2 linked regions of the Homo sapiens genome follow. The protein of the gene in region 1 purifies or fractionates together with the protein of each later gene. This does not show direct contact. Each region holds a gene or a part of one and is shown on either strand. Other genes may lie near its edges. The genes, in order: PDXDC1 and PAWR.

Evidence for each region.
Region 2: the proteins of PDXDC1 (region 1) and PAWR fractionate together in Homo sapiens (co-fractionation; one large-scale study listed by BioGRID). This does not show direct contact.

What each region holds. Positions count from the first base shown.
Region 1 is NC_000016.10:15,026,828-15,030,646, forward strand, and holds part of PDXDC1 (pyridoxal-dependent decarboxylase domain-containing protein 1), read left to right. Parts: intron 1-2,050; coding exon 2,051-2,139; coding exon of another isoform or gene 2,140-2,205; exon of another isoform or gene 2,206-2,978; intron 2,979-3,123; coding exon 3,124-3,229; intron 3,230-3,819.
Region 2 is NC_000012.12:79,621,165-79,624,983, forward strand, and holds part of PAWR (PRKC apoptosis WT1 regulator protein), read right to left. Parts: intron 44-3,819; coding exon 1-43. UniProt on the Homo sapiens protein: Pro-apoptotic protein capable of selectively inducing apoptosis in cancer cells, sensitizing the cells to diverse apoptotic stimuli and causing regression of tumors in animal models.

The sequences.
Region 1 (3,819 bases):
GAAAAATGTAATAATTTTCATGAAAACTACAGTCCGAAACGCCTTAGCAATTTGCTGATAGTTTGCGGTGATTAAACCAGGGGTTCCCAAATGCCAGTCCCTGGACCAGTGCTGGAATGGCTAAGAAAGAGTTGCTTGAACATAAAGATTTGTGGGTCTTACTTCCCACATATTTTGAGTCAATAGGTTGTGCCCAGGAATCTGTATCTTAAAGAATGACCCAAGTGCCACCAGTCTAGTCCAGGGCACCACTCTTTTTTTACCTGGTTGGCCATTGTCCCCTGTCAACTGACCTCTGACTTTCATACATTCTACACAGCCCATTCCAGACCATTCTCCACCTGGCAGAGAGGGTTATAAGTGGAAGTCACATGGTGTTGAAACCGGAAAGGTTCCCTTGTCCCCCTCGCAGGGCATGTGATGGGGGTGTGGCTCGCTTCTTCAGTGCCCCGCTGCTGCTCAGACCTCTAGGAGAGCATACAGACGGGCAGGCTGTGGGGCTCCGACCCCATGGCAGCATCTGGGGGTGAATGTTTTACAGCTCCTAAGGCTCCAGCGGGCATGTGTTACAGTGTGCTCTTTTAATTTAGCCGTCTGTAGGCAGCTTGTTTTAGCTCACTTAGACCCCCTTCCTTATCACAAGGACAGAGGGATTAATGTATCCCAGGTTCTTGTCTTGGTGTACCGGAAGAATGGGATCACATGTGGGCTTGGAGAATGAGTGCAAGGTTTTATTGAATGAAAGTAGCTCTCCGCTGATGGGGGAGCCAGAAGGGAGACAGATTTCCCTTGGAGTTGGGCCGCTCAGCGGCCCTGGCCAAACTCCGCCTCGTCCCCGTGGTTGATGGCCTGCTGGCTTGCCGGGGCCTGTCGGGGTGCTCTTCTGCCGGCCTGCTCTCCATGACCAGCCGCTTGTGTCTTTTTCCACCAATGTGTTCCTCTGGCCATCCAGCCACTTCTGTCTGCCCACTAGGGTCTCAGGTTTTTATAGGCCCAGGATGGTGGTGTGGTGGGCCAGCGTGGTCTTGGGAAATGCAACATTTGGGGGAAGGCAGGAGTGCTTGTCCTCACCTAGGTCCGTGGGGGTAGAGTCCTAGCCAGGGACCCGCCTTTCTCTCCCCAGCACTTCCCTTCCCCGCTTCTGTGTCATTTAAAGGGACCACGCTCTTCCCTTCCCAGCACTCCCGTATCAGTGTCACTTCCCTGCCCAGAGCCCCTGGGTATCTTACCATTTCGGTCGAACAAAGGCCAGGCTCTCCCATGCCCCATGAGGCCTGCACACTCTGCCCCGAATTCGCTTCTGCCTTCCCCCCTTCCACTCTCCCTCTTGTTCGTTGTGCCTCAGTCAGACCAGTCTTCTCCGCGCTCCAGAACACTCTGCCCTTTCCTACCGCAAGGGCTTAACACTCGGCGTTCCCTCTGTCTTACACACATTTCTCTCTTCTGGTGCCAGCTCCTCCTCACCATTTCGGTCTCCACTAAGTATCCACATCCTCAGCCTTCCCTGCCTATCGTGCCTGAGGGGACTCCATCATTTTCTATCAGAGCCCCCAGCTTCACTTGTGACACTAACAACCACATGGAGTGATTTTCTTTCTTTATGGTCTGTTTCCTCAACTAAAATGTAAGCTCCAAGATGACAGAAACCTTACCTGCCTTCTGTCCCAAGTGTCGGGCTCTGTGCCTGGCACGGGTTGGCACCCACTGTGAGGCCTAGTTAGATGATCGTGGCACTCACAGACCTCGCACGGTGCTTGGTAAACTAGTTAGTAACTTAAAACAATTGCTGTTTCCCCTTGAAATCCCTTGAAAGCAAACCTTTTCAAAAATGAAATTAATAATTCTGTCTTATGTGAATGTATTCAAGTGTTACATAGATCACGAGGAAAAAGAAATGTAGCCCTTCTGTCAGATAATACATGAGAATTCAGTAATACGAGTCAGTGCCCTGGGGCTAATATTGGGATGGGAATGATGTGGGGTTTGGAGGGTGTTTTTTTTGGTCAGCCGTGTTTCTGGGAGTGACTCCCTTTCTGTGTTTTGGTGTCAGATCCGGTGTTTAAAGCCGTCCCAGTGCCCAACATGACACCTTCAGGAGTCGGCCGGGAGAGGCACTCGTGTGACGCGCTGAATCGCTGGGTGAGAATGGCAGTCACCCCCCTTTCCTTTCAGGTCCCCGTCCATCACCATCCGACCTGCTGGTGAGGGTGACGCGTGCTCGTGTATGGGAACTGAGGCCCACAGGAGGAGCCGCCCTGCCAGTGCTGGGCCTGCTCTGGAGTTCTGTTCCCCATTGCGTTACCACCTCACGAGCTGGGTCACCTCTGGCAAGTCCTTCTGGCATTGCTCCCTCACTTTCCTTGCTGCTGTATAAGGCTGTGAGACAACAGGCAAAAGGTGGGCTGCAGGGCAGCTGCGGTGGGTTCTGGTGAGCCTGGGCAGCACAGCCGGGAGCCCCAGGCAGAGTCTGCCGAGCATCTGCAGCTGGCAGTGTGGAGCCAGGCCTGCACTTTGATAGCGTTTTGGGCACTGAATAGCAGCTCTAGGATTTGAGTCTGAAGGGTCTTGTGAACAGTGTGGGATGGCGGCAGCAGCAGTTCTAGCCAATGCTGGACACGCCCAGCCTAGCAGGGTTGGCAGATAAGTCCTGGTACATCCATGCTGGGGCTCAGCACAGCTGTGAGAGACCACAGAGCTGAGTGTCTCAAGCAGAAAGGAACTGGTCATAAACGAAATGAATCAATGCAGGTTACTAAGCAGTGTCAAGTAGCATGTTTTATGACAACAACTACAACTCCCTGCCCGCCACTAGGAGAAAAGACGCTGGGGGCAGACCACATGTCAGCAGTGGGTGTCGCTTAGTAATATATTGTGGGTCATTGTTATTTTCTTCTTTTTGTTTACTTGTATTTCCTAAATTTTTCTACAATGAACTTGTATTAATAAGAAAAAACCATAAAATTTACTGTTTTTAAAAAGCTGCTCTAAGTAATCAGACAGTCAAAAGAGCAGGAATCAGCTCTCCAGGAGGCTCTTTGGTCTGGGGCCGAGGGGATGAGGGTGGGTCCTGAAGACGTCTGAGTCCCTTGTTACAGGAGGGTGTTCATTGTGTCCTCCTCACAGCTGGGAGAACAGCTGAAGCAGCTGGTGCCTGCAAGCGGCCTCACAGTCATGGATCTGGAAGCTGAGGGCACGTGTTTGCGGTTCAGCCCTTTGATGACCGCAGCAGGTAAACCAGGCTTGGTGGACATCCCTTGCTTTTGTTCTGGGGCTGCTGGGTAGATTAGCTTGCCCTTATGATACTCCATTCTCCTAGAGTTATTAGCAGCTCTTTTTGGAGGGGCATTTTCTTTTCTTTTGGGCTAAATTTAGGTAGATTAGCATTCCCATGTAACTTACCAGAATCAGAATGAGAATTCAGAAGTCACCTGAATTGGCCGGGCATGGTGGCTCACACCTGTAATCCCAGCACCTTGGGAGGCCAAGGCAGGCAGATCATCTGAGGTCAGGAGTTCGAGACCAGCCTGGCCAACATAGTGAAATCCCGCCCCTACTAAGAATACAAAAAATTAGCCAGGCATGGTGGTACACACCTGCAGTCCCAGCTACTTGGGAGGCTGAGGCAGGAGAATCACTTGAACCTGGGAGGCCGAGGTTGCAGTGAGCTGAGATTACACCACTGCACTCCAGCCTGGGGGACAGAGGAGACTCCATCTCAAAAAAAAAAAAAAAAAAAAAAAAAGTCATCACATGAATTCCTTTTTTGTTGTTGTTGAGACAGGGTCTTGCTCTGTCACCCAGGCTGGAGTGCAGTGGTGC
Region 2 (3,819 bases), on another chromosome or scaffold:
GCTCTTTCTGCCCTGCTTCATCATCTTCGTACTCATCTAAGCACTGAAAGAAAAAAAGAGTTTCCATTTTATTTCTACTATTAATAGACTGTTTCGATAATATGTGAAAATATATTGATAGTATTAAAGAAATATTTGTGCATTCAGAAATTAGTTTGCATAATAAAAGTATTTTTCTTTCAGCAATATGTACATTTAATTCCTATAAATTATCTGCTTAAAACTTGTACTTCCATATCCACACCACTGCCAACAAATCTTTTCCCTAAACTCCAAACATCAGTGACAGGGTTTTCTTAAAGGAAAGGTTTATTCATTCTTTATCATTCATTCAATAAGTAAACTACGTCTACCTTAAACAAGGCATTCTGCAGAAGGTAACAAAGGATGCATTAAAGAAATGGAATTTATAATCTAGTAGGAAAGATAATACATATATATAGATAGATAGATAACTTAGTGATAAAGGCCCAGTTTCTAGCTTTATATTCTATGAGCATATAAAGGAAGAGTATTTTTACCTGGAGAGTTAGAAAAGACTATAAAAAATCTTGTAATTTAAAGAATGGCTACAATTTGGAATTGCAGATATATAAAAAAAGAGAATTACACATGTAACAGCATATTGGAAAAGCTTACAAGAGAAGGCTGCTAAAAAACAGAAGCAACACTAGAAATTATCTAACTCTACACTTTCTACATAAGAAAAACAAAATAGAAACAAATCTCTATCCATTATACACATCATGGGCTGGGTTATCCGTTCCTTGCAACTGAATACATTCCTAACCAATACACTGCCCTAAAGGTTTCTGCATGAGAACTCACACCCCCTCCAGACAAAAACAAATAAACAAACAAAAACAAAAACAAAAAAAACCACACACCTCTTTGTAGAGACACTAAGGAACTGATCACAGCAAAGTATAACAGTATGGCAGTGAAGACAATAGGAATTGGACAAAAAAAAAAAGTTGTGCAGAGAGAAGAAAACACTGAAGCCATTGTGCAAACCAAGAAGGTGCACTGGAATATTTGGAGATAGGAGGAACATACTGAAAGGGGTACCAAGCTTGATAAAGACAAGGTCTACAATGGAGGACATGGAAGAAAGCATCTGTCTGAGATGGAGTGTTTTTTATTATTTTTTATTATTATTATACTTTAAGTTGTAGGGTACATGTGCACAATGTGCAGGTTTGTTACACATGTATACATGTGCCATGTTGGTGTGCTGCACCCGTTAACTCGTCATTTACATTAGGTGTATCTCCTAACGCTATCCCTCCCCTCTCCCCCAACCCCACGACAGGTCCCAGAGTGTGATGTTCCTCACCCTGTGTCCAAGTGTTCTCATTGTTCAATTCCCACCTACGAGTGAGAATATGCAGTGATTGGTTTTCTGTCCTTGTGATAGTTTGCTCAGAATGATGGTTTCTAGCTGAGATGGAGTCTTACAACATTAGGATGATACAGAGAAGTCTGAGGACAGAAATGGAAAGGGCAAATGAAAGGAGCATGCAGGTTGAGATTTGGTGTCACCTGGCCCTTGTCATATCAACCTGCCAAGAGTGGGGCTTGGGGAAACAGCACAAGAAAATTATGATACTGTAGCTACTGTTATTGCTGAGTCTAAACTGTTCTTGACTCTAACTAACCCAGGAGACTAGTATCTTTTGCCAGCATACACAAGCTAACGTGTTAGCCAGCAAGTGGGGTATGATCTCAAAGCCATTACAGTTTTTGACAAAAGTGAGGACTCGAAAGGCATAGAGGGAACATAAATAATAGATAACCCAAGAAGTTTAGACTTCTCACTCCATAGCTTGGAATGATGTTACAATGCTATACAGTTCCTTGGGATAAGGAATGATCAAAATTCTTTTTGGGAAGAACCTGGAAATAGCAATGCAGAGAACAGGAACAAGACCAAAAGTGAAAAGACTAGTTAAGTGACTAGTTAAATGACATAGGCAATTGTATCCTATGAAAAATGATATATCATAGGTGGAAACAGAGTCAGTGAAAGAAATCTGGTATGGGACACCAAAGTGTTAAGAAATTAGTCCTTATTAGAAAAAAAAAATCTCTCTCAGGACTTTCAAAAACTTTCTCAAATCACTAGACAATATCTTGTTTAATGACAACATACCAGCAAAATTTAAAGTAAAATCAGACTCAAGACATTGATGTCCACTATTAACATAATTGTTAACATCATTCTGAAAGTGCTAGTTGATAGAACTAGGTAAGAAGAATAGGCGATTTTAACATTAGAAAGGAGGCAAAATTACCATCAGAGGAAATGATTTTGTAAAAAACAAAAACATTTTAGAATTATGAGTTAAGATTTTTTTCAGTAAATAAGCAAAAAATTTCCCAAAGTAACATCAATAGCCAGTTACAAAATTTTTAGTAACAACCATTAAAAAACTAAAAAACAGTACGTGCATGAAAAAAGCTATAAGACTTTACTGAAGAATACAAATTAAAACCTGCTCTTAAGAAAAATCTAGTATTGTGAAGGTGTCAACAGTCTCTTAACACATAAATTAAAATTCCAATCAAAATCATGAAGAAATTTATTTGGAAAGTAGTGGTGCATCATCTGGAAGAAAAAATACATAAGATATCAAAAAAATTACTTTTTTAAAAAAGAGGTATGACCAAACACTCTAGTTAATGTTAAAATGTATAAAACTACAATAACAAAAATACCTGATAGAGGTCCTAGAACAGAAAGAATAAAATAGCATAAAAGGCATTTTAAATCAAGGAGTTGCTTTAAAAGGGGGAGGAGAGGTCAATCATTTAATGAACAGTAGGAGAAGCAAAAGTATGAGATCTGGAAAAGAATAAAGAATGGTCTCATCTCTAGTCTTCTACTGTGTGAAAGCAATCATCACTTATTCTCCAGCATATGGACTCAAAAATCCCTCACCTAGGCTCCAACATCATTAGCTTAAAGTTGGAATTCTTAAATTATCATAGATTAATATTAACAGAAAGCAAAAGTTGAGGCAGGTAGCCACGCACTCCCAGAGCACTGGGATGCTATTTTATTTGTCTTTGTTTTCATTTTCTGAGACCCAGCCCCACAACACTAACTTTCCCTCCTCCTGCCCCCTCAACTAGACTCCCTTACCAGTATATTAAAAGAAAAAAGAAAGGAAGAAACAAAACACTCGGTAAATGTTTCATAAAACAATGAATGAGTTACCAAGATGAGACAAATCATCTTGGAGATGAACTGGAAGGTGAACTGTGATACCTGAAGTTAAAATTCTGAATGCTCTTTCCCATGGCAACACTGCTATCCACTGAACTGGGAACCTATTCATCACACATAGTATCCCTGTGGATACAGTATGTATCTAACGTTCCAGGCAGCTTTTAGTATAGGATTACTTGATGAATCACAACTTCTCTCCAAAATTCTGCTAGCAACCAGTGCAGTTCTTTTGATAACAAGCATCCTAGAAATTCTTAAGCAATCTTTTCTAACTGGGATAAATACATCTGGAGGAAGAAGTTGGCGGAAATCATGAGAAATAAGAGAATTCCTGTATCTGCCATACTTAAGAGAAGTGGATTCTCCTCATTCCTTTCTTCAGCTGCATAATAATTTTATTAAATAGATGTACCTACCATATTTTAATCAGAGCTTTATTGATGAACATTTGGGTTTTTTACACGCTCTAAGAAAAATGTGTTAGAAAGGCTTATATATATAGTTTCTGTATATATGCAATGGATTTCCTGGATAGATTCTTAGTATTAGGATTGCTGGCTCACAAGGTAAATGAATATGTCAATTTG